7 linked regions of the Homo sapiens genome follow. The protein of the gene in region 1 purifies or fractionates together with the protein of each later gene. This does not show direct contact. Each region holds a gene or a part of one and is shown on either strand. Other genes may lie near its edges.

The links.
Region 2: the proteins of AGK (region 1) and SFXN2 purify together in Homo sapiens (affinity purification with mass spectrometry, with the first as the bait; one large-scale study listed by BioGRID). This does not show direct contact.
Region 3: the proteins of AGK (region 1) and GTPBP6 purify together in Homo sapiens (affinity purification with mass spectrometry, with the first as the bait; one large-scale study listed by BioGRID). This does not show direct contact.
Region 4: the proteins of AGK (region 1) and COX11 purify together in Homo sapiens (affinity purification with mass spectrometry; one large-scale study listed by BioGRID and IntAct). This does not show direct contact.
Region 5: the proteins of AGK (region 1) and SLC39A14 purify together in Homo sapiens (affinity purification with mass spectrometry, with the first as the bait; one large-scale study listed by BioGRID). This does not show direct contact.
Region 6: the proteins of AGK (region 1) and TNFAIP2 purify together in Homo sapiens (affinity purification with mass spectrometry; one large-scale study listed by BioGRID and IntAct). This does not show direct contact.
Region 7: the proteins of AGK (region 1) and SLC25A24 purify together in Homo sapiens (affinity purification with mass spectrometry, with the first as the bait; one large-scale study listed by BioGRID). This does not show direct contact.

Annotation. Positions count from the first base shown.
Region 1 is NC_000007.14:141,652,410-141,655,744, forward strand, and holds the end of AGK (acylglycerol kinase, mitochondrial isoform 1 precursor), read left to right. Parts: intron 1-377; coding exon 378-515; 3' UTR 516-2,835; downstream 2,836-3,335. UniProt on the Homo sapiens protein: Lipid kinase that can phosphorylate both monoacylglycerol and diacylglycerol to form lysophosphatidic acid (LPA) and phosphatidic acid (PA), respectively. Does not phosphorylate sphingosine. Phosphorylates ceramide.
Region 2 is NC_000010.11:102,721,136-102,724,635, forward strand, and holds part of SFXN2 (sideroflexin-2), read left to right. Parts: intron 1-3,500. UniProt on the Homo sapiens protein: Mitochondrial amino-acid transporter that mediates transport of serine into mitochondria. Involved in mitochondrial iron homeostasis by regulating heme biosynthesis.
Region 3 is NC_000023.11:312,297-315,796, reverse strand, and holds part of GTPBP6 (putative GTP-binding protein 6), read left to right. Parts: intron 1-497; coding exon 498-568; intron 569-776; coding exon 777-907; intron 908-1,579; coding exon 1,580-1,647; intron 1,648-2,872; coding exon 2,873-3,031; coding exon of another isoform or gene 3,032-3,265; intron 3,266-3,500.
Region 4 is NC_000017.11:54,959,922-54,962,788, forward strand, and holds the end of COX11 (cytochrome c oxidase assembly protein COX11, mitochondrial), read right to left. Parts: coding exon 2,812-2,867; 3' UTR 1,406-2,811; coding exon of another isoform or gene 1,344-1,405; 3' UTR 706-1,343; coding exon of another isoform or gene 645-705; 3' UTR 501-644; downstream 1-500. Other genes in the region: TOM1L1 (TOM1-like protein 1), read left to right, coding at 645-705. UniProt on the Homo sapiens protein: Exerts its effect at some terminal stage of cytochrome c oxidase synthesis, probably by being involved in the insertion of the copper B into subunit I.
Region 5 is NC_000008.11:22,419,278-22,423,236, reverse strand, and holds the end of SLC39A14 (metal cation symporter ZIP14 isoform a precursor), read right to left. Parts: intron 3,686-3,959; coding exon 3,539-3,685; 3' UTR 501-3,538; downstream 1-500. UniProt on the Homo sapiens protein: Electroneutral transporter of the plasma membrane mediating the cellular uptake of the divalent metal cations zinc, manganese and iron that are important for tissue homeostasis, metabolism, development and immunity.
Region 6 is NC_000014.9:103,122,171-103,126,260, reverse strand, and holds the start of TNFAIP2 (tumor necrosis factor alpha-induced protein 2), read right to left. Parts: upstream 2,801-4,090; 5' UTR 2,310-2,800; intron 1,887-2,309; exon of another isoform or gene 1,755-1,886; intron 1-1,754. UniProt on the Homo sapiens protein: May play a role as a mediator of inflammation and angiogenesis.
Region 7 is NC_000001.11:108,158,844-108,162,343, forward strand, and holds part of SLC25A24 (mitochondrial adenyl nucleotide antiporter SLC25A24), read right to left. Parts: intron 2,451-3,500; coding exon 2,339-2,450; intron 1-2,338. UniProt on the Homo sapiens protein: Electroneutral antiporter that mediates the transport of adenyl nucleotides through the inner mitochondrial membrane. Originally identified as an ATP-magnesium/inorganic phosphate antiporter, it also acts as a broad specificity adenyl nucleotide antiporter.

The sequences.
Region 1 (3,335 bases):
ATTTGAGAAGGATTAGCATAATATAGAAAGACTATGTATATGAGTTCCTTAAGACATGGCAGGACCCTTGCCTTTTAATACATATTTGAAAATTATAACCATGTTGTTCAAATCCCAAAATACTCTGGGAGGAGATAGGGGCCAAAAAAAGAAAATAAATCCTTTTTCATGGATGGTAGAATTAGGATGTTTCCAGAACCAGCACTGTGCCCATCGTAGTAGGCACTGAATTTTTTTTTGTAAAAGAACATTAGGATAGCTCCTCAAGAGAGGATGTTGTTTTCCATAATGAACTTCTTCTGGTGCTGCTGTGAGACCTCCAACTCCAGTAGGCCACTGATGTGTTTGAGCTGTTCTGAATATTCTCTTCTCCCCAGGGAGCAGGGGGCTCTTTTAGCATTGACAGTGAGGAGTATGAAGCGATGCCTGTGGAGGTGAAACTGCTCCCCAGGAAGCTGCAGTTCTTCTGTGATCCTAGGAAGAGAGAACAGATGCTCACAAGCCCCACCCAGTGAGCAGCAGAAGACAAGCACTCTGAGACCACACTTTAGGCCACCGGTGGGACCAAAAGGGAACAGGTGCCTCAGCCATCCCAACAGTGTCGTCAGAGGGTCCCCAGGGCATTTTCATGGCAAGTACCCCTCTGCCCCCACTCCAGCAGTGCTTCCCAAAGTGTGCTCTGTCACCTGCTTTGCAATCGGCTTCCATTAGCGCATGTTTTATTTTGGTGTGACGGTTGGCCCTCCTAAACACGGACTTTCCTCAGGCTGGTTCAAGACGGAAAAGGACTTTCTTCTGTTTTCTTCCAAAGTGCAACCACAGTGGAGAGCCCACGGTGGGCTTAGCCTGCCTAGGCCCTTCCATTTCTCTTCTTTGACCGTGCTAGGAATTCCAGGAAAGTGCATTCCTGCCCTGGTGACCTTTTCCTATGTCTAGGCTCCTCCACAGGTGCTGCTATTTTGTGAGCTCCGGCTCCTGTTTAGCTTTTATTTCAGTTCTAACCTCAGTCCAGAAACATATGTGAGGTTGTTTCCCTCTTCAGCCACGGCTACAATACCGGAAAATGCTAGTTTTTATTTATTTTTTTAAGTAGTGCTTCCTAAATGGTTTGCATGAGAGCCACCTGGGGTACATGTTGAAAACTTATTTGGGGTCTACCCCAAACCTAATAACCCAAATTTGGGGATGGGGCCCAGGAATATGCATTTTTAAAAAGTCATCTGCCCTTCCCAGGTGATTCTGTAAGTTGTCCCTCAACTGTACTTGGAGAAATCGTGTTTTAAAGCAGTAGTCCACAAAGTATTCTGCTCATGTGCCCCCAAAAGTATTTTGAAAAATCATGTATACCCTCACCCATCTAAGTTGATATCTAAAATTTTATCTAAGTTGGTATCTAAAATTTTTCATGGGAAGTTAAATAGTTGACAAAGTATGTATTTGCTGGTGTCGTGTAAATATTGGTATTTTAAAATAAAAACTGTTACATCACTATTTTAAACATATCCAGTACAATTTAAATATCACAACAATTTGACACCCTTCATTCATTTATAAAAATAAATGAGCTAGTTCTTTAGTAGTTAAACATTTCAAATTGGCTTTTCTCCTTCTGTATTTCCATACCACTTTTCAGCCAAGAATCCTATCATAATGTAATCTATTATGCCCGACATCTTTTAATCATTCACCCCATTACTTCTTGTCAACAAAAAATATAAATGGAAATTTTTTTTTTAGCTCTTGCTTTAAGTGTTTGTTTGTTATCTCAGTCCAGAACCAATATTATCGTAATTAATTATTGGTATATAATGAAAACGGTATTAATTCTTGGATGATTAAAAGTTTTTTTATTAGAATGTTCTTTATCCTAATTAGTTCATTTATCCAAGAATACATGAATGTGATTTACAGCTGAGATGGGGTTCAACCTCAGCTGTATTCCTTGTTTCTGTATAGATGTAAGCACATAAATTCGATGGAATAGAATTACGTTAACAATGTTTTTACAGTTCTTTGGATTCCTTTGGCATTTTGACAAAGATCACAGTGCTCTATCATCAAGAATTATTAATGATGATCTATCAACTAACAAACAACTTGATTAGATTCTCCTTTAGTCTGTTGAAAGCAGAGAACTGAAATCCACCTGATTTACCATGGCTTTGCCAGCCAGTCATTAGCACCATTTACTTTTACTATCGCTGACATTTTCCTTTGTTCAGTGGCCCTGAGGTTCTTACACTCTAGGGGGCAGTGCACCACAGGAAGATAGATCAATGAGGGAGGATTGCGAGGGGGAAGGGGAGGAAGCAGAGCTGGCAGGCCTTAGCTACAGGCTCTCTCTCAGGCAGATCCCTTTTAAGATACATACACCATGCCCACACATCCCATGGAGAGAGACCAATGCTTTAGTAGATTACAGAACAGCTATGAAAAGTCCATGAATGAAGATCACAAAAAGGAAGGCTTTCTTATTTCATACTGTATTCTTCAGGGTGGTAAAATTTCTGCTTTTGGCAAAAACATAACAGACGGTTCCAAACATCAGCATAAAGATCACTCATCCCATACCACCCACAGGTAGGGAGGAAGGATGCTGTAGTATATGAAAACAAAAGTTTTCACCTGAGCTGAGAGCATTTAGCATATCGTGGTTCTGTAACAATATCAAGGACCAGTGCAGAATCTGGCTTTCTTTTCTGATAGGCTACCAGTGTGTGTTTATGTGTGCTCATTTTGTGGTTCTAATCATAATGGTACATATAATTAGGGAAGGATATGGAAGCCACTTTAGAATCTTATTCATTTTTAAATATAAATATGCCTTGTTTCAAACTTTGTTTTCTTGATTCAGGCTTTCTTTCCTGTGAGGGCTTGGTTTCCTTATTGTTGACTGCTTTGTTCTTTGCCTTGTCCTTCCCTATAAAGCCTGCATGGAAGACGTTTAATAGTGCAACTAAAAGAGAGTCAGCTGAGTGAGGCTTGTCAGCCAAAGCTGGAATGCTGAGCTATCTGGAGGAGATCCTAATAACCCAATTTGGGGATGGGGCCCAGGAATCTGCATTGGGAAGTCGGCCACCCTTCCCAGGTGATTGTTTAGTACAAACTTTTTGACAGATTAATTTCACTCAAATGCAAAGATTAATCCCAGCACTTTGGGAGGCCAAGGAAGGTGGATCACCTGAGGTCAGGAGCTCGAGACCAGCCTGGCCAACGTGGTGAAATCCCATCTCTACTAAAAATACAAAAATTAGCTGGGCATGGTGGCATGTGCCTGTAGTCCCAGCTACTCTGGAGGCTGAGGCAGGAGAATCGCTTGAACCCGGGAGGCAGAG
Region 2 (3,500 bases), on another chromosome or scaffold:
CCAACAGCCACAGTTATGTGAGCCAATTCGCTAATTCCTTGTGATAAATCAATTTCTATATTTTATCAATATTATATTACGTCAGCATTATATATATTTAGGCCAGGAGTGGTGCATGCCTGTAATCCCAGCACTTAGGGAGGATGAGATGGGAGGATTCCTTGAGCCCAGGAGTTTGAGATTACAGTGAGCTATGATTGCACCACTCCACTCTACCCTGGGCAACCAGCTGAGACCCTGCCTAAAAAAAGAAGAAAAAATTATAAAATCTATATAGATAGATCAACATATATTTATAACATATAAAGTTATATATTTATATATGATTTTATATAGCTATATGAATTATTTATGTTTATATATTATTTTTATATGTTATATTTAAACGTAATTCATGTCTATATAAATAAATGTATATATAAATTTATATATTATAAATATATGTTGCTATATCTATAAATTTAAAAAATTATATATTTATATAGTTATATAATTTATATATTTAGAAAATATATATTATAGTATACAAATATATTTTAGAAATATATAAAATATGTATATGTGTGTGTCATAGCCAGGTGCAGTGGCACACACCTGTAATCCTGGCACTTTGGGAGGCCAAGGCAGGCAGATTGCTTGAGCTCAGGAGTTAGAGGAACTCCATGTTGCCCCATGTTATGTTTTGGTATCTACCTGTCTGTCTGTCTGTAATCTACTGATTCTGCTTCTCTGGTTGAACCTTGACTGATAAAATGTTCCTCTTATACCTATTGCTTAGCAGACCTTAACATTCCGCTTCTTTGAAAGATTCTCTCCTGTTGGTCTCTCCTCTGAGTGCACGTGGGTTCATTTGAGCCCTACCTCTTCTTGCCTGGATTACTGGGGTTCTCGTCCAGCTGGTCTCCCTGCATCCCGTGAGGTCCATCCACATCCTGTTTATTCTCATGACTACCCAGTTTGTTCTTAGTAAACTACATATCTGATCTTGTCACTCTTCTTCTTAAAGTCTTTCAATGACTCCCTGAAGCTTTCAGGCAAACATTTAAAAGCGTCAGCTTTTTTTGTATGACTCCATTTTCTCTCCTCTCTTAGCATATCAATTATACTTCTTTTGAAAACCTTTTTAGTGGTTGCCCAGGAGTCTGCAATGTACATTTATGACTAATCCAAATCCACTTTCAAATAACACTATACCACTGCATGGAGTGTGCAAGTACCTTAGAATGGAGTCCTCCCAATTCTCCCCTCCTGTCCTTGATATTACTGCTGTCATGGATTTCTCTGATCCATAAACTGTAATCACCAAATACATTGTTGCTACTATTGTTTTAAACAAACGTATCTGTTTGTTAACTGTTAACAGTTCAGAATAAGAGAAATAAAGATTTTTATTTGTTTGTTTGTTAGTGTTTTTTCCCAGACAGGGTCTCACTCTGTCGTGCAGGCTGGAGTGCAGTGGCACGATCACAGTTCACTGCAGGCTTAGCCTTAGCCTCCCAGACTCAAGCAGTCCCCGCACCTCAGCCTCCCAAGTAGCTGGGACCACAGGCACATGCAACCACGCCTGGCTATGTTTTTTTCTTTTTTAATTTTTATAGAGACAGGGTCTCACTCTGTTGCCCAGACTGGTCTCAAACTCCTGGGCTCAAGCGATGCTCCTGCCTTGGCCTGCCAAAGTGCTGGGATTATAGGTGTGAACCATCCCACCTGACCAGAAGAACTTCTTTTAACATCTTGTAAGTCAGGTCTGCCAGTGACAAATTTCCTGTTTTGTTTGTCCAAGAAAGTCCTTTTTTTTTTTTTTTTTTTTTTTTGAGACAGGGTCTTACTCTGTCACCCAGGCTGGAGTGCAGTGGCTTGATCTTGGCTCACTGCAGCCTCCGCCTCCTGGGCTCAAGCATTCCTCCCACATCAGCCTCCCCAGTAGCTGGGACTGCAGGTGTGCACCACCACACCTGGCTAATTTTTCTATTTTTTGGTAGAAAAAAAAATACAAAATGAGGTTTCACCATGTTGGCCAGGCTGGTCTCAAACTTTTGACCTCAGGTGGTCCACCGGCCTTGGCCTCCAAAGTGCTGAGATTACAGATGTGAGCTACCATGCCTGGCCGACTAGAAAGTTTTGTTTTTTTTTTTTGACAGAGTCTCACTCTGTCACCCAGGCTTGAGTGCAGTGGCGTGATCTCGGCTCACTGCAACCTCTGCTGCCCAGGTACAAGCGATTCTCCTGCCTCAGCCTCCCGAATTGCTGAGATAACGGGCACCTGCCACTGCGCCCGGCTAATTTTTGTATTTTTAGTAGAGATGGGGTTTCACCGTCTTGGTCAGGCTGGTCTCAAACTCCCGACCTCAGGTGATCCAACCGCCTCGGCCTCCCAAAGTGTTGGGATTACAGGTGTGAGCCACTGCGCCTGGCCCCAACTAGAAATGTTTTAAGGGATATAAAGCAGTTAGTACTTGAGATGATTCTTCTGTAAGATATGGGATAGGTGGAAATGGGTAACGACTAACAGAATCAGATGGTATGCATCCCCAAATAGTAATTCCAATGATCTAGGAAGACCAACATTCCCACACCATCCCTACCACCACAGACTCAGTGTTTCTCAATGAGAGACAGAATTTGTGTATGGAGGATCTGAGTCCAAGCCCTTCTATTAGTATAATTGCATTAATATTATTTGTTTCTTTTTTTTGTTTTAACTTTTACTTTAGATTCAGGGGTACACGTGCAGGTTTGTTACATAGGTAAACTTGTGTCACTGGGGTTGTACAGATTGTTTCATCACCCAGCTACTAAGTTTAGTACCCATTAGTTATTTTTTCTGATCCTCTCCCTCCTCCCACCCTTCACCCTCAAGTGAGCCCCAGTGGGGTCTGTTGCTCCCGTTTTTGTGTCCATGTGTTCTTATCATTTAGCTCCCACTTTTAAGTGAGATATTTGGTTTTCTTACTTATAAATGTGATATTTGGTTTTCTGTTCCTGCATTAGTTTGCTAAGGATAATGGCCTCCATCTTCATCCATGTCCCTGCAAAGGACGTGATCTCGTTCTTTTTTGTGGCTGCATAGTATTCCATGGTGTACATATACCACATTTTCTTTATCCAGTCTGCCATGGATGGGCCTTTTGCATTTGGACAATTTCTACTGACACGTGTTCAGGCTCACTGATTCTTTCCCTGGCCATGTCCAGTCTACTGATGAGTCCATCCAAGACTTTCTTCATCTTTGTTACAGTATTTTTGATTTCCAACATTTCCTTTTGATTCTTTCTTAAGAGTTTCCGGCTGGACGTGGTGGCTCACGCCTGTAATCCCAGCACTTTGGGAGGCCGAGGTGGGCGGATCACGAGGTCAGGAGATCGAGACCATCCTGGCTAACATGGTGAAACCCCATCTCTACTAAAAATACAAAAAATAGCTGGGCATGGTGGTGCACGCCTGTAGTCTCAGCTACTTGGGAGGCTGAGGCAGGAGAACCACTTGAACACGGGAGGCAG
Region 3 (3,500 bases), on another chromosome or scaffold:
TGTGTCCCTGCTGGGATGTGTTTACTGTGTTTGTGTGTGTCTCTGTGTATGTGTCTGTGTGTGTGTCTGTCCCTGTCGGGATGTATTTACTGTGTGTGTGTGTGTGTGTGTATGTGTTTGTGTCCCTGCCGGGATGTGTTTACTGTGTTTGTGTGTGTCTCTGTGTGTCTGTCTGTGTGTCTGTGTCTGTCCCTGTCGGGATGTATTTACTGTGTGTGTGTGTGTGTGTGTGTGTGTGTGTGTCTGCGTGTGTATGTGTTTGTGTCCCTGCCGGGATGTGTTCACCGTATGCATGTCTATGTCTTTGAGACACACACTCCTAGAGACACACCCCCTCCCACGCTGACTTCCTGGATCCCGGGTCTCGTGCTCAGGAAGTCGGGGATGCCTGTGAAGTGAGCTCTCCGCGGTGCATCCCACAAAGGGTATGGTGGGCTCATCCCACAGTCCACGGGTGTGGACGGCCAGCCTCTGACGGGACCCCCTCTTTCTGTTAGAAAAGATCCGAGGGTCTCCAGACATCACGTGCGTCTTCCTGAACGTGGAGAGGATGGCTGCCCCGACCAAGGTACCACAGGATGTGGCTTGCTGTGTTTGTCCCCGCACTCCACGCGATGAAGGAGGGGACGCCACGGCGTCCGGCCAGGCGGGGGACAGATGGGGACAGATGGGGACACGGTGGGGTTAAGGCATTAGAGACGTCCTCCTTCCTCTCACATTGGCCACCAGGGCCCGGCCTTCCCCCGTGGCTTCTCAGTTGCTCTCTCCTTTTGCAGAAAGAACTGGAAGCCGCCTGGGGCGTGGAGGTGTTTGACCGCTTCACGGTCGTCCTGCACATCTTCCGCTGTAACGCCCGCACGAAGGAGGCCCGGCTTCAGGTGGCCCTGGCGGAGATGCCGCTGCACAGGTATCGTGGGGCCCCTGGGCCGCGCCGAGCGTCACGTCCACTCCCGGAACCCCTCCGTTCTGTAGTCACCTGTAGGGCGTTCTGGGGGTGCGTGAGGAAGAAAAGCACCATGGGGGCCGGGCGCGGTGGCTCACGCCTGTCATCCCAGCACTTTGGGAGGCCGAGGTGGGCGGATCACGAGGTCACGAGATCGAGACCATCCTGGCCAACACGGTGAAACCCCGTCTGTACTAAAAATACAAGAAAAAAATTAGCCGGGCGTGGTGGCGGGCGCCTGAAATCCCAGCTACTCAGGAGGCTGAGGCAGGAGAATGGCGTGAACCCCAGAGGTGGAGCTTGCAGTGAGCCGAGATCACGCCACTGCACTCCAGCCTGGGTGACAGAGCGAGACTCCGTCTAAAAAAAAAAAAAAAGAAGAAAAGCACCGTGTGGGCTCTCTCTCCGGGGCCCGTTGCCCCCACTGCCTGCCCCCGGCTCCCCACTAGGCAGGTCCCCTCGGCCCGGGACACGCGTCACTCACAGTGTGTGAGCTACACGCGGAGCGGGGCCGCAACAGCGGCTCCTCCCTTCGGCCCAGAGGCCCAGCTCAGTGCCCCCTTCACCTTCACCTCGACCTCTGCCGGGAGGGAGACAGCGTCCGCAGAGACCGAGCCACTCCCGTTCCCACACCAGGTCGAACTTGAAAAGGGACGTCGCCCACCTGTACCGAGGAGTCGGCTCGCGCTACATCATGGGGTCAGGTAACTCGGGCCGGGCGCGGCGTCCCAGAGGGTCCTCGGAATGCGGTTGTCAGCGGCAGCCACCCTTCTCAGCCCTGGAAGATTCCAACAGGGTGGGGTCCAGCTGGGGTCTCCGTCTCCTGGTAGCATTTGAGGACATAGGAGACCCTCAGCCCTGGAAGATTCCAACAGGGTGGGGGCTGGCTGGGGGCTCCGTCTGGTAGCATTTGAGGAGATAGGAGATGCTGGTGGTTTTTGGAGGTTTTGCCTAAATCAGTAGCCACAAACTGGGGATTTAAACAGCAGAGATCTATGCTCTCCCCTCCTGGACACCAAAACTCTGAGATCAAGGTGAGGACAGGGCTGCGCTCCCTCCAGGGGCTCCTTCTGCCTCTCCCAGCTCCTGGGGGCTCCAGGCATCCCTGGGTTTGTGGCCGCGTCACTCCAGTCTCTGCCTCCGTCTCCACGTGGCCTCCTCCTCTGTGTCTGTGTCTCCTCTTCTGTCTCTTACAAGGACACATGTCATTGCATTTATGGCCCGCCCTAATCCAGAATCGTCGCATCTCTAGATACTTCAGTTATGACAAACACCTTATTTTCAAATAAGGTCCCATTGACCAGTTCTGGGAATTAGGATGTGGACAGATCTTTTAGGAGGACCACAGTTCAATCCGCTACACTTGTATCCACTTCCCTCTGGAGGCTCTAGGGCAGGGTCCTTCCTGCCTCTCCCAGCTCCTGGGGGCTCCAGGCGTCCCAGGCTTGTGGCCTCGTCACTCCGGTCTCTGCTTCTTAGAAGGACACAGGTCGTTGCCTTAGGGCCCACCCTAACCTAGGGTGATATTTTGAGACCCTACAAAGACCATATTTCCAAATCAGGTCCCATTCCCAGGTTCTGGGACTTCGGATGTGAAAGGGGCCCCACTGAGCCCGCTCACGATGACGTCCTGGGCCGTGTCCCGCTCGGAGGCCTCCGTAGTGATCTGGCCTTTACTTTCTCCCCGAGTCACGGGAAGCCCTCGTTGACCTCACAGGGTGGACACCCGGAGGCGAGATCCCGTTCCGCCGAGCAGAGCCCTTTCTCATGGAACAGGACGTGTCGGGGCCGCTGCTGGGGAAAGCAGCCGGGCCCCCAGATGCTGGAGCGGGAGCAGGCCCCGGGCCCCCGCAGACCCTCCGCGGCACCGCCCGCACTTGTGCCTTTCCCGGCGTGGCTCACCGCCTCACCATCTCGGGTGTCTTTTAGGAGAATCCTTCATGCAGCTGCAGCAGCGTCTCCTGAGAGAGAAGGAGGCCAAGATCAGGAAGGCCTTGGACAGGCTTCGCAAGAAGAGGCACCTGCTCCGCCGGCAGCGGACGAGGCGGGAGTTCCCCGTGATCTCCGTGGTGGGGTACACCAACTGCGGTGAGCACGCGCCCAGGGGAGGGGCCTTCCGCGGTCTCCGTGTCACCGGTGAGGACTCGCCCGGGGGAGGGCAGGGGGTCCCTGTCGTCTCAGTGGTGCCGTACGACAGCTGCGGTGAGCACGTGCCCAGGAGAGGGGGTTCCCATGGTCGCCGTGTGGGGTACACCAGCTGCTGTGAGAGCTCACCCAGGAGACGGGTTTCCTGTGGTCTCTGTGTGGGGTACAGCAGCCAAGGTGAGGATGTCATCTACCCCATCCTCCCATCCAGAGCTTTACCACCCTGTCTATACCACAATCTCCCCTCCATCTACACCATCCTCCTGTCTAGACCATCCCCACTGCCCTATCTATACCACCACCCTGTCTACACAATCCACCCATCTACACCATCACCTCTCCTCTGTCTATACCATCCTCCTGTCTACACCAGCACCACTACCCCATCTATACCACCACCCCGTCTACATAA
Region 4 (2,867 bases), on another chromosome or scaffold:
TTTTTTTAAAAAGTTTGAAACCAGAAGAAACTGAGGAGTTTTTTAAGCAAAACATAAACTGTCCAAATTTGAGTCATATTTCTCATTTCAATCACAAGAAAAAATTAATTGGTTCTATGAAATACATACTTTTAAGAGACATAGGAATTGCAACAATAAGGCCGGGTGTGGTGGCTCACACCTGTAATCCCAGCACTTTGGGAGGCCGAGGCGGGTGGATCACCTGAGGTCAGGAGTTTGAAACCAGCCTGGCCAACAGGGTGAAACCCTGTCTCTACTTAAAATACAAAAAAATTAGCTGGGCATGGTTGTGTGTCCCTGTAATCCCAGCTACTCGTGGGGCTGAGGCAGGAGAATCACTTGAACCTGGGAGGCAGAGGTTGCAGTGAGCCAAGAAAGCACCATTGCACTCCAGCCTGGACAAAAGAGTGAGACTCTGTCTCAAAAAAAAAGAAAAAATGAAGTGCAACATTAGAATTTAAATAAACTAGAATACACACTTCAGGGCAGAGACTTATTTTTACTCATATGTAGCCTGAACTCCAAAACCAGCTCAATTTTTAATTACAGTGCTGGCAGTTAAAAACCAAAATAGCACTTTGAAATTGATACATAACCCTTTTGCTGTGATGGCTTTGTTTCAGAGCTATTTATGAAGAAATTGATGCTCACCAGCACAAAGGAGCTCAAAATGATGGTGACTGAGGTAAAGACTTCAACTTATACAACTTAATTCCATATTCCATATAATTTCAGTATAATTATCACTTTACATATTTAGTATTTAAATTTTCTAAGGGCCATCTGAGTCTGACACTTTGAAATATGAGTTCCCCTGAATCATTCAAATTGTGCTGAACCATTGTTCACTAATGAGAGTCATTCTTTGTGATTTTCTCATCTGTAAATAGTAAGGCTTGGGAATACAGTAGTTTATGGTATAGAAATATTAATGCTAACAAAATAGATGAGCAATAGGAGTAGCACTGAAATCAGGCATTTGTTTTTCATATGCAGTTAATACTTGTTAACCGGTACCAGTAGACCCATTTACCGTTAGTCCTCCAAATAGGTCTGAATTTTTCCTATTTTCAGCACTACTAATCCCATGTATTTACTATTTAATGGTCACCAATGAACTATCAAAACTTATTTATTCCCCTTATACCCTCCCCTATGGAAGAAGCACATTCTTACCTTTCTTCTACTAGACTGTGACTCTCCAGCTTCCCAGTAAAGACAAGAGAGTTATCAAGGAATGGGGAAAGAGAAGGACAGGATGAATACTGGCCATTTTCTTCTCTTTATTTTAGAAGAAAGTGGATGATCAGCTCACTACCACATCAAAGGTGCCAACTCTCTAAAACGTAGACTCTGTGCAGCTTTGAAGCCTGGAAGACAATACCTACCAACATGTCAAAGCCATGGTGGCACATTTCTGCTATAATGAAGATTAAATAGAATAACAGTTCCAGGATAACACTGATTCCTGACAACAGCGTGAGATTTCAACAGAACTTGTTTGGAACAAATACTCACTTAAAACTTCAGCAGAAGAAAAATTACTTAGTCCTTAGGCCAACCAATTTAACTGCAGTGTCATGTTTCACAGGCCTTCCTACATTTAGAAATCGTCACACAGCTGTGATAAGAGTAGATTATTTTACTATGAAATAATTCTGAATAGATGAAAGCATAAAATGTGAGAAACTGAATGTATTATTCAGGAAGAATACTGAGTGCCTTCATTTAACTAAAGTTGAATGTAAAAGTCAATTTGCACTTCTTTATAATCCTCTGGTTTAGAATTATAAATTGTTAAAACCTTGATAATTGTCATTTAATTATATTTCAGGTGTCCTGAACAGGTCACTAGACTCTACATTGGGCAGCCTTTAAATATGATTCTTTGTAATGCTAAATAGCCTTTTTTTCTCTTTTTACTGCAACTTAATATTTCTATTTAGAACACAGAAAATGAAAATATTTAGAATAAGTTGTACATTTGATGACAAATAAATCACTATTAAAACAATTTAATACTTTTTTTTTTTAACAAAGGTTTGTTTCCAGAAGAACTTTTGATGTCAGTAAATCTTCACAATCCCACCTGTACATTTTAACATTCATGGACTTGTAATGGTGATGCTTTGGCTAACAGCCTAGTAGATGTATTTTATTTCAATTTTATGATACTACAGTTTCAAAGTAATTATTCAGAACTCTGAATATAAAATAGCCCTAAACCTTAAAGGACAAATCAAATTTGAAATAAGAATTTAAATCTTTGGACAAGCTGTTAGGGCTTAGTGACTCCTCTTCTACTTTGAGCTTTTAAAATACTGACTATTCATAATGAAGGAAAATAGCAACCAACTCTTTTAGACACAATAAACATGGTTAGAAGTTCTGGCCTATGACTTGAAACAAATAACCCTGAGCATACATTTTTGAAAAACATTGTCAGATTCATTGCTGTAAGTATGAAGAGTTAATAATCTGGAAGGGAATTATGGAATTAAGCTGAACCCATGCCTGCATATTTAAAAAACAAAGCGGCTTATTTTAATAGTATCAAACTCTTCAGTATGGTATTGAATAGTCAGTCATATATTCTAGCTAGGCATATGAGTTTCTTATGATAAAAGCTGAACTTGTTCTCTCAAGTTTAAGTGAAAAAAATTAGTTGAGAAAAAATAATTATTTAAAATATAAGCCTTCATATTATTGTACAATATTTCTCCTTTGAGAAGATAGGATATATGATTTTCCCAAAAATCACAACTTTGAAGGAAGACTTAGTTGCTGACTTCAATTATATCCTGGAACTGGCAACTTGTGCCCTTCCTTTGCTTCAAAAAAAGTGT
Region 5 (3,959 bases), on another chromosome or scaffold:
AGGAAGCGGAGGCTGCAGTGAACCGAGATCGTGCCAATGCATTCCAGCCTGGGTGACAGAGTGAGACTGTCTCAAAGAAAGAAAAGAGAAGAGAGTACAAAAGTTTCCTTCTTGGCCTGGCACAATGACTCAAGCCTGTAATCCCAAGACTTTGGGAGGCCAAGGCGGGCAGATCACCTGAGGTCAGGAGTTCGAGACCAGCCTGGACAACATGGCGAAACCCCATCTCTACTAAAAATACAAAATTTAGCCAGGCGTGGTGGCGGGCACCTGTAATCCCAGCTACTCGGGAGGCTGAGGCAGGAGAATCGCTTGAACCCAGGAGGTGGAGGTTGCAGTGAGCCGAGATCGCACCACTGCACTCCAGCCTGGGCGACAAGAGCAAAACTCTGTCTCAATAACAACAACAAAAAAAACCTTCTAAAATCCCAGTCAAATGTTAAACCAGACCTGGTAAAACAAAACTTTGTACGTCAGTGAGACACCATCGCCACCTTGTGTTCAACAGCCTTCATTACATCCACATTTATTGCAAATGATCACCCGTGGGATTCTCAACAATTACAGAATATAGCTTTATTTATAGAATCTTACAAATAAAACATTTACAGTCCACATAAGTTAATTTTCTTTTCTAATTTCTTCTCATACACCTGAGTTATTTAAAAAAATACTGTGATGGAACTGCAGAACTGTAAAGGGAAATAAGAACAATAAAATCCTAACCTCTCTTGCAAAAATCAGACAACTTTGTTTTAAAGTAGATGCCCAGCATATTGCCATCTCTTTGGAAGAGGACTTACTATACTCAGCTCTTACGCTACCCAAACAGAGAAGCCTTCTTTTTAAAACCCAAGGTTAAGGACCAGTGAAGAATAGCTCCAATTTGACACTAGACACAAAATACCTTTGGGGGCAAAGACAGGGGCAAGCTGTGTGCCGGTGGTGAAGTGAGAAGGAGCAGAACCCCTGTCCCTGCCTCACTGTTCCTGCACGTGACATACACTTTCCTTGCTAACTTATTAATAGGAGCTGGTGCATCTGGAAAATGAGGTCGAAGCTGCTAATGCCAGGGGTGAAAAAGTCCTCCCACTGACTTGCTACTCCTTAGACTTCTAATATGTACAAATGCTTGAAACAGCAAATTCAACAACTAAAAATCAAAAGAAATTGCCAATTTTTGACTCATGAGGCAAAGCTGTTGCCACAATCAGTGGCGACTCAAGTCAGACGATGTGAGCGTCTCCGCCCCTCCTAAGCTCCGACTAGGACTGACCTCTGCGCCAACTACGGTTTAAAGAGGATTTCCCTTTGAGGCAGCTGTCTATGGAAGGAAATTTCTTAAGGTAATATAGGTGTGCACAAAAAGGGAAAACACCCTATTTCATTTTTCAATTTGTTAAAGATTATAGTTTTGAGCTCCTCTCCTAAACTAGAAATCCACTAACTCTAACTTAGTATTCTACTCCAAGACAAAGGGTATTATGTTTAAGGAATGATAGGATCTATTGGGAATGCTAAAATTATAAATTTAATACATCAATGCGAGTTAGGTTAAAGCAAAATCTTCCAGAGTCTTCAACTTTGAGTTATTTTCTGCTAGCTCCTGAAAGCAGCTTGAGAAAAATAAAACAGAAAAGACAAAGAACCGTTTAAAAACAACAATAATAATGACAATATAAAAAGTTAGATTCCAACATTCAAGGAATTGGTTCTTTGGTAAAACTGGACCATAATCCCACCAGGAAATCAGTCCTGATATTTAATCTAGAATCTCCATCACTGAAATTTTCCCTCTTCAGCGTATTCTCAAATGTATTGAAGCCAACAGGCAAGATAAAAACAAAACTTAAAAAAAGTATCACCAGCAGTTTTTCCTGCTCACGTTCTTTTCAAGAATATTCCTGGTTTGACAGATGTCTCCCAAGAAGAGAAAACAAAACGGATGCTGCTTGTGATTACTGAGAGCGGACAGTTTTTCTATGTAAGAGAAAAGCTCAGGCATTGGTAGTGAACCAGTACTCCTGTCAGCCATGCACATGAATCAGTTTGCAAACATGGCCCCTGGGCTCCAACTGTGGGCACCACTAAGAAAGGCTTCTGGAGAGACAGGCTCCCCAAAGTGGCTAAAGAATCTCACATTATCAATATGATAATAATAAATCAATTCACCTAGTGAACCTGGAGAAGAGCTCCCCTTGAAGCCAGAGCTCGGAGGCAAGGGCTCCACAGTGGCTAAGGCTGGCCTACAGTTTTAAAGACAAGTTATCTCCATCCATTTTCTGGAGAGAGTTAGAGAAATTCATATTCAATTCAATGCAGGATTCGACTTTTTTTGCAAGGAAGCAGTAACCTAGACGGGTCATTTAAAACCCATCTGTAGCATAATCATTAGGCCAACCATTCTGCAAACATCTGCGATGCCCTAAGTGAAGTTTGTGCCCTTACATTTCAGAGACCCCCTATTAGTCATGCTTTGATTTATGGAAGCGGCAAATCCTAAATTTTGCCTGCACTGATTCCATTTCTGATTACCCTTGTCTAAGTAGAGCATAAATGGCACCCCATTTCTACAAGTCAGCTTGCCACTCTGCAGACGTCTCAACCTGGGGGAGGATAGTTTGTGCAGTCTCCCCTCTAACACAGAGGTCTCAAATGTGCTCAGAATGTGCTTCTAGGAGGCAGCTACAAAGTCTCTTAGAAGATGGCAGTGGGGAAGAGGAGGTCAAAATCACAGCCAAACCAACTGTTTTCTTGCAGACAGCCTGAGCCTCCATTCTGTCAGCGTTAACCTGAAAGAGGAGGTCCAGGCAGCCACACCGCCACGTTAGCTCACTCGGACAGCCGTGAAACACCAGGTGCTGTTACAAAATCAATATCCAGCATCTCAGTAGGAACAAGTGAGCATCCTGACAAGACACACAGCAGTGGTTCGACTTCCTCTCCCATTCAGGATGAACCTTGCCTCACCTCTCACCCTGCTCATGTGTTCTGACTTCAGGTTCTCTTTGAGAGAAGTAATAGGCAATTAAACAGACTTTGAAAAAATGGGAAGGCTTCCTGTCTCCTGTCTCTTCTATTGGCCAGCTGGAGGTCCAAGGTGCCCAGCTAGAGTCATGGGCCCCACACTATGGATTCAACTCTTGATATTTCTAGCCAAGTTATAACCATTGGCTCTATTTTTGCATTGTTGGGTAAAGGATTCAAAACCTTTCAGCACTGGTTCCAAGAGGAGGCCAAGGTAATCAGAGAAAAAAGTCAGGCTTGTCTTGTAAGCTGCATTCAGGTTCCAGAGTCACTGAGAGAAAAGGAGGTGAGGAGAGGGCAAGAGGCACTAGCTAGAGACTGGTTACCAGGGCAGCTTATTCCTAGGATACAGCATTTTACAAACGGCTGACATTTGAATGCAGGAATACAGTCTGTGTCAGTTTTTCATAGAACGGCCTCTTCCGTGGTGCATTGTGGATGGTAAGTCCTCGGGCTGGCGATCGGGCAGCCCAGGGCCCGACTTCCAGTCCCACAGGCTCTTGGCAGAGCCCTACCCAATCTGGATCTGTCCTGAATACATGGTGAGGACCACCATGATGGTGAATCCAGTCAGGAGGCCCAGGTTCTGGATGATAAATGGAATCAAGATGCTGCCCTTCCTTTCATCCTCTTGACAGACCTCATTCATCTCAGGGAACTGGGAAAGAAGCAAGAAACAACACAGCTGCAATTCCTTCTTCATCTTGTAAGTCCAGGGCAATTCAGTGATGGAGATATAGATCAGGTTGGTTGACAAAGAAAATTATCAGGGCCAGGTGCAGCGGCTCACTAGAGGTCAGGAGTTCGAGACCAGCCTGACCAACATGGTGAAACCCTGTCTCTACTAAAAACATAAAAATTAGCTGGGCGTGGTGGCGCAGGCCTGTAGTCCCAGCTACTTGGGAGGCTGAGGCAGGAGAATTGCTTGAACC
Region 6 (4,090 bases), on another chromosome or scaffold:
CTCCCAGGCTGGACACACAGCTATGCTGGCTGCATTGAGTACACTCAGTCTGTTTCACCCATTCAGCCACCGGGGCTCTGCTCATCTCCTGGCCCAGATGAGCACCAACAACTGTGCTTCCTCCCTGGCCACGAGCATCTCACCATCTACAGCTCCCCTTCCAATACTTCACAGCCCCAGAAGCAAGGAAGAGGCTGGGGACGCCAAGCCCGCCACACAGAGGGGGACTTTCACTTTACTTGGGCAAATCCTTCCCTGCCAGCCCACCCTCTGGGCAGGAAGCAGGCAATGGACACCTCCCTGGATCCCACGGGACCCTAGGGAAGAGGCGGGGCATGGGCTCTGTCCCTTTGGACAGAGCAGGAACAGAGGTCCAGAAAGGTCTGGGACATGCCGGGGTCTAGAACACCAGAACCGGCCTGAGACTGGAACCCAGCCTCCTCCTGCCCAGACCCAGCCCCTCTGCCATCTTGTCCAGTTCTGATCCAGCGGTGGGGTCACAGAAACACAGCTGCTCCAGCTGGGCCATGAAAGGGGCAGAGCCTGACCAGGATCTACAGAAGCCACAGTGGGTGGGACCTCAGACAGCCTTTCACACATCACTGGGGCAAGGGGCTCAGCAAGTCACAGGGCGGCCTGAAGTCACACAGCAACTCGGGTCCAGAACCCAGGCTTCCTGGCTCCCACCCCCTCCCAAATGGGATCGTAGCATCATCACAAAGGCTTCCAGTTTCTGCAGCCTTCCTGGGTGCCCATCCCATCTCTTCCTTTCTCTCATCTGGAAGGGTGTTATTTCGGCTTAAACTGTCCCTATAGTCAATAGCTTGGGCTTGGAACTCAGGCCACCCGGTCCCAGAGCCCAGCTTTCCCCTGCCTCCACATCCCCAGCTATCCTGCAAGCTACATCCAGAGAGGCAAGACCCGAGCTTCCCCAGAGTCCCTGCCCAGCACCTGACCATTGTCAGAGCAAGGCCAGGTCCACTGGAGAAGAGCATGGCTGATCTGAAAGGGGGAAGCAGGCAGGGGCTGGGCCTCCCCAAGAACTGGGGTGACCTGTAACCTTGATGCCACCTGTCTGCCCCACCCCAAGACTAAATGCATGCAGCCTTGTCTCATGTATCATGGTAACTTCAAGTGACCCCTGAAACAGCCCTGCAAGGCAGGCAGGATGATCCACCATCCAGAAGGAGAAACTGAGGCTGAGTAGGAGGTGTTTGCCCCAAGCACAGCAGCCATGGAGGCTCAGACTGGGCCCATCCGACTCTTCCCATGGCCCCGCTGCCTCCACCAGCCCCACTACCCTGTCCCCATCCTGGAGGGGCTTGGCCAGAGCCACCTGAGGGACAGGAAGCCTGGGCTCCTCCCACCCCCAGCCCCTGCCATGCTCACCCAGTGCCCTGGGCAGAGTCCCACACTCCTGGATGGCACTGGCCTCCCTAGTGCCATTTGGGTTGAGCATTCCACTCCAGGACCAAGAGGGGCATGCTCCAGGGAGCCCCAGGGGCAAGGCCATGGGGCACCTCTGCTCCCCACCCGGTGCCCCAACTTCGCTTCCCAGCCCCTCTCAGGTGCATGCCTAGCACCCGCGGGAGCTGGTCTGTCTGGCAGGGCCACTCAGCCCCACCCTGGGTGCCCAGGCCCCACCTCTGCCATTCTCCTGGGGTGGGGGAGGGTGGCCCTTACCAGCAATGCTCCCTGCCAGCCTCACCTCAGCCTTCCCTGTCCCACCCCACATGTACTAGGCTCTGTCCCACCTCCAGGCACAGCTCCCGCAGGACCCCCACAGCATCACCGCCTTCTCCCCTCTGTGACACGAAACCCAGAGCGCCTGAAGGTCCTGCTGCAGCCCCCTGGGCCTCGCCCCAGGTCTCCGCTCTCCGAGGCAGCTGGTGCCATGGAAAGAGAAACGCTTTCGGTGTGGGCTCAGCACACTTCTCACTAGTGTGTGGACTGCACACCTCCTTCCTTCACAAGCCGCCGTTTCCCCGTCTTTGAAAAGGGGATGAGGACCCCCACCCCACAGTGCTGCTGAGGGGATGTGGCCAAACCGCACAGCCAAGTGCTGGGCGCCTAGCTGGGCCTCAGTGGGGGTGAGTCTCCTGTGTCCTGAGTCTGTCCTGCAGGCAGCAGCGAGCCGGTGCAGCCAGAAAGGAAGAAGGGGAGGAGGGGCGTTCCTTTGAGCCTTGCCGCTGGTTGGGCCCACTGAGGCAGGAAGGGGCCTGCTGGGAGGCTCGTAGAGGGGTCACAGCCAGTGGCTCAACAGCGCCCCCCAGCCTCCTGCTGCCCGGCCTCTCCTCAGGTCCACTGACCTGGCTCGCCTTCCCCGTCAGGGCTGATGTCCACACACCTCCCGGGAGCTCGCTGGGCCCGGCTCCTTCAGTCCTGGGCAGGATGTGGAAGGCGCACCCATCCCCCGATGAGGACACCCGGGCACGGGCGAGGAAGTGACTCGGCCTGTGTCGCCCGGCCGGGGAGTCACGCCGGACCTGGGGCCTTTCTGCTGTAATGGAGGGGAGACCCCTGCGCCTGCCCCAGCCCCGCCCTCCCTGCCTCTGGCAGGCCCGGGCCCTCAGCCAGCCTTGGCCCCTCTGCGCCCGGACGCGCGGACGCTGGGCGCGCCAGGGCCTCAGTTTCCCTGGAAGCGTCCAGCCCCCTCCTGTCCCCGCCGCGGCGACAGGCTCTTTCCTCGGGGAATCCGGCCTGGCCTCGGGGTAGGGGCGGGCGAGAAGCCGCGCGGAGCGGCGGGGAATGGACGTGTGGAAGCGGAGGTCACTTACCGTGTCCCGGCCTGGCCGCCACTGTCCTGGCCCGGGTTCCGCAAGGCCTGAAATAGTCGCAGAGTCAGCCCCGCCCCGCCCGCCCCTCCTTCCCCGCCCCGCCGCAACCGCGGAAAACCCGCGGGCGGAGGCCAAGGCCCAGCGCGGCCCGGCTGTGTCCCTGCGTCCCAGGGGCTGGGCGCGCCCGGCCTGCCCAGCGGGGGATGCGGGGCGCTGTCACTTCCTCCCAGCAGCCGGGCAGGGGCGGGGGGCTGGCCGCGCGTCGCATGGTATGTGGAGTTCGGGGGACGGCACGGGGACGACGGGGTTGTCAGGCGCGGAGCCATTGTCCGACGACGGCTCCTGATAGGCCGCCTGGATGGGGCGCGCTTGGCCGCGTTCCCGCGTCACACACCGGCTCCAGCTGCGGGAGAGCCCGTCCCACCCCAACTCCCCAGCCGCCCCTCTGAAGTGTTCCGGTGTCACCGTGGCCACAAGGAGGCAGGGGACGGGGGCTTCCTGAAGGAGGCCCCCTAAGGGGAAGGGGGCTACAAGGCTGGCCAGAGTGCTGGCCGCGCGGCTGTGCACAGGGCCTTGAGCCCCTCCGGTCGTCAAGCCTTGCTTGAAATGCGTAAATGCGGAAAGGTGAAGTGGCTGACCCGGCTCACACCACTTTAAGTAGCGGAGTGGGGTTCCTAGCCAGGCCTATGGGACTCCCACTGGAGCCTTTCCCCCTCTGGGGCTGGGGCTGGACCCACAGGCTGCCGGAGCAGGCAGAAGGGGAGGGGCCCAAGGCCCAGACTCCAGGGCCTCGTCTGGATCATCAACCCGGCTTTGCCCATTCAGCGCAGGCCTCCGTTTCCAGGCCTGTCTCCCCATCCACACCGTCTCTCAGGGTTTGTTTTGGGAGATGTGGGGGTGGGGCATGTGGGGAGGATGGAAAGGGGCTGTGAAGGGAACCCACTGGAGATTCACTTCCTTCCTTATTTCACACTCTAGGCTAGGAATTCCTGCCCTCTGGAAAGGACCCAGACATTTAGGAATTTCCCGCTGGGCAGGGGCTTCCCTCCTGCCTCACTGGGGCCTCTGCTCCTCCCCTCTTTTGTTTGGCCTCTTTCCCCGCCCCCTGATCACTCCGCCACCCCTTCTGCAGCCTAGTAACAGGTCTTCCAGGACCAGGGGGGCCAGCGGAGTGGGGGCGGCTGTGGGTTCAGGTGCCCTGGGAACTGAGAACTTCCTCTTCCAGAGTGCTGGCCAAGCGCCAGGTTTGCACTCGGATTGCCATCCATCATCCTGTCTCTGGGGAACCTGTGGGGGAGCGGATGCGGGAGGCC
Region 7 (3,500 bases), on another chromosome or scaffold:
ACAAAAAAAATTAGCCAGGCGCAGTGGTGGGTGCCTGTAGTCCCAGCTACTCCGGTGGCTGAGGCAGGAGAATGGCGTGAACCCCGGAGGCCGAGTTTGCAGAGAGCCGAGATCGCACCACTGCACTCTAGCCTGGGCAACAGAGCAAGACTCCGTCTCAAAAAAACAAAACAAAAACAAAAACAAAAACAAAAAATAAATAAAACTCCTTCAGAGAGTTCCTAAGGGTTTCAGGAGCAGATTGCACAATAATAGAACTTGGTTTACATCAGTATGCAGAATATTAATGAAACAATCAAAATTTGAAAGTTTGGTGGAAAACAAACTGGTATGAAATGCTAAGCAGATGAAGCAAAAAGATTCTGTAACCTTTAATGAATATTGTTAAGTGCCTTATGCCAGAGATAAACATAATCTGACCAAACAAGGACACAGATCCTTAGCAACCATGAGGTGCTGAGATTATTTGGACAATATAGTACCTATAAAAAGTAAAAGCCTACAACTTTTACACTTCCCTATGGCAGAATACTTAAATGCCAATAAAAGCTAGACAGCTTATTCATCAAGGTGGTACTTCTTCCAAGTTTTCAGAATGGACATTTATGCAGTCTTGGGTTGTTTTTTTTTTTTTTTTTTTAATTGATCATTCTTGGGTGTTTCTCGCAGAGGGGGATTTGGCAGGGTCACAGGACAATAGTGGAGGGAAGGTCAGCAGATAAACAAGTGAACAAAGGTCTCTGGTTTTCCTAGGCAGAGGACCCTGCGGCCTTCCGCAGTGTTTGTGTCCCTGGGTACTTGAGATTAGGGAGTGGTGATGACTCTTAACGAGCCTGCTGCCTTCAAGCATCTGTTTAGCAAAGCACATCTTGCACCGCCCTTAATCCATTTAACCCTGAGTGGACACAGCACATGTTTCAGAGAGCACAGGGTTGGGGGTAAGGTCATAGATCAACAGGATCCCAAGGCAGAAGAATTTTTCTTAGTACAGAACAAAATGAAAAGTCTCCCATGTCTACCTCTTTCTACACAGACACAGCAACCATCCGATTTCTCAATCTTTTCCCCACCTTTCCCCTTTTTCTATTCCACAAAACCGCCATTGTCATCATGGCCCGTTCTCAATGAGCTGTTGGGTACACCTCCCAGATGGGGTGGTGGCCGGGCAGAGGGGCTCCTCACTTCCCTGTAGGGGCGGCCGGGCAGAGGCACCCCTCACCTCCCGGATGGGGTGGCTGGCCGGGCGGGGGGCTGACCCCTCCACCTCCCTCCCGGACAGGGTGGCTGCCGGGCGGAGACGCTCCTCACTTCCCAGACGGGGCGGCTGCCGGGCGGAGGGTCTCCTCACTTCTCAGACGGGGCGGCCGAGCAGAGGCGCTCCTCACATCCCAGACGGGGCGGCGGGGCAGAGGCGCTCCCCACATCTCAGACGATGGGCGGCCGGGCAGAGACGCTCCTCACTTCCTAGATGGGATGGCGGCCGGGAAGAGGCGCTCCTCACTTTCCAGACTGGGCAGCCAGGCAGAGGGGCTCCTCACATCCCAGACGATGGGCGGCCGGGCAGAGACGCTCACTTCCTAGACAGGATGGCGGCCGGGCAGAGACACTCCTCACTTTCCAGACTGGGCAGCCAGGCAGAGGGGCTCCTCATATCCCAGACGATGGGCGGCCAGGCAGAGACGCTCCTCACTTCCCAGACGGGGTGGCGGCTGGGCAGAGGCTGCAATCTTGGCACTTTGGGAGGCCAAGGCAGGCGGCTGGGAGGTGGAGGTTGTAGCGAGCCGAGATCATGCCACTGCACCCCAGCCTGGGCACCATTGAGCACTGAGTGAACGAGACTCCGTCTGCAATCCCAGCACCTCGGGAGGCCGAGGCTGGTGGATCACTCGCGGTCAGGAGCTGGAGACCAGCCCGGCCAACATAGCGAAACCCCGTCTCCACCAAAAAAATACGAAAAACAGTCAGGCGTGGCGGTGCGCGCCTGCAATCGCAGGCACTCGGCAGGCTGAGGCAGGAGAATCAGGCAGGGAGGTTGCAGTGAGCCGAGATGGCAGCAGTACAGTCCAGCTTTGGCTCGGCATCAGAGGGAGACCGTGGAAAGAGAGGGAGAGGGAGACCGTGGGGAGGGGGAGAGAGAGGGAGAGGGAGAGGGAGAGCTGTTTTTTTTTGTTTAATACTCTATAAATCTATGCCTAATAGAATAAATAGAACTCTACAGGTTAAGGAGCTACTGGGACTCAGGTATCCTGGCCCATAAGTGTTACAGAGTGTTCTTGGGTGATAACTGTACCTATGGTTTATAGCTCCAAATAAGTATAAATACATAAAGTAGACTTACTGTAGAATGTTTCCAGAAACGGATAATTTCCTCAATGTCTGTAACAGGATTAAATAAGAAGTAGTCTCTCCATTCATTCCAGTCCACTGTCATTGTCCCATCAACATCAATGCTGAAATTTTAAAAAAATGATCAAAGTACAAAACTAAATTGATAAATAAAACTAACATTATTGGCCACTTTACAGAATGACAGTTTCTTTTCTAACATAATATTCTCATTAAATTAAAAAACCCCATCCACAAATATAGGTTGTTGGAAATGGCAGCAAGCATTTTATGGTCCTGTCAGATAGTTTTAATTATCTAGATAAAAATGGGCCCAAAAATTACAGCCAGCTCACTAAAGAATACTTTCAGCACTCTGTCAAACTCTGCCAATGAGCTACAAAACACAAAAACTTGAAGATAAAATATTAAACGATGGTAATGAATAGATTCATTATCCATTTTTTTCATGCACTTAGTGGATCATGAAGATAATTCTTAATGTTCTATTGCAACATTTGAATGTAGTTTTGAAATATACTCAAAACATGCTATCAACTTCCTCGAAGTTAGGAAAATTAACAGCTATTATAAAAAATCAAACTGTCAGTGACTGTGCCTTTGAGTCTTTTTTTTTTATTATTATACTTTAAGTTTTAGGGTACATGTGCACAATGTGCAGGTTAGTTACATATGTATACATGTGCCTTGCTGGTGCGCTGCACCCACTAACTCGTCATCTAGCATTAGGTATATCTCCCAATGCCATCCCTCCCCCTCCCCCCACCCCACAACAGTCCCCAGAGTGTGATGTTCCCCTTCCTGTGTCCATGTGTTCTCACTGTTCAATTCCCACCTATGAGTGAGAATATGCGGTGTTTGGTTTTTTGTTCTTGTGATAGTTTACTGAGAATGATGATTTCCAATTTCATCCATGTCCCTACAAAAGACATGAACTCATCTTTTATGGCTGCATAGTATTCCATGGTGTAAATGTGCCACATTTTCTTAATCCAGTCTATCATTGTTGGACATTTGGCTTGGTTCCAAGTCTTTGCTATTGTGAATAGTGCCACAATAAACATACATGTGCATGTGTCTTTATAGCAGCATGATTTATAGTCCTTTGGGTATATACCCAGTAATGGGATGGCTGGGTCAAATGATATTTCTAG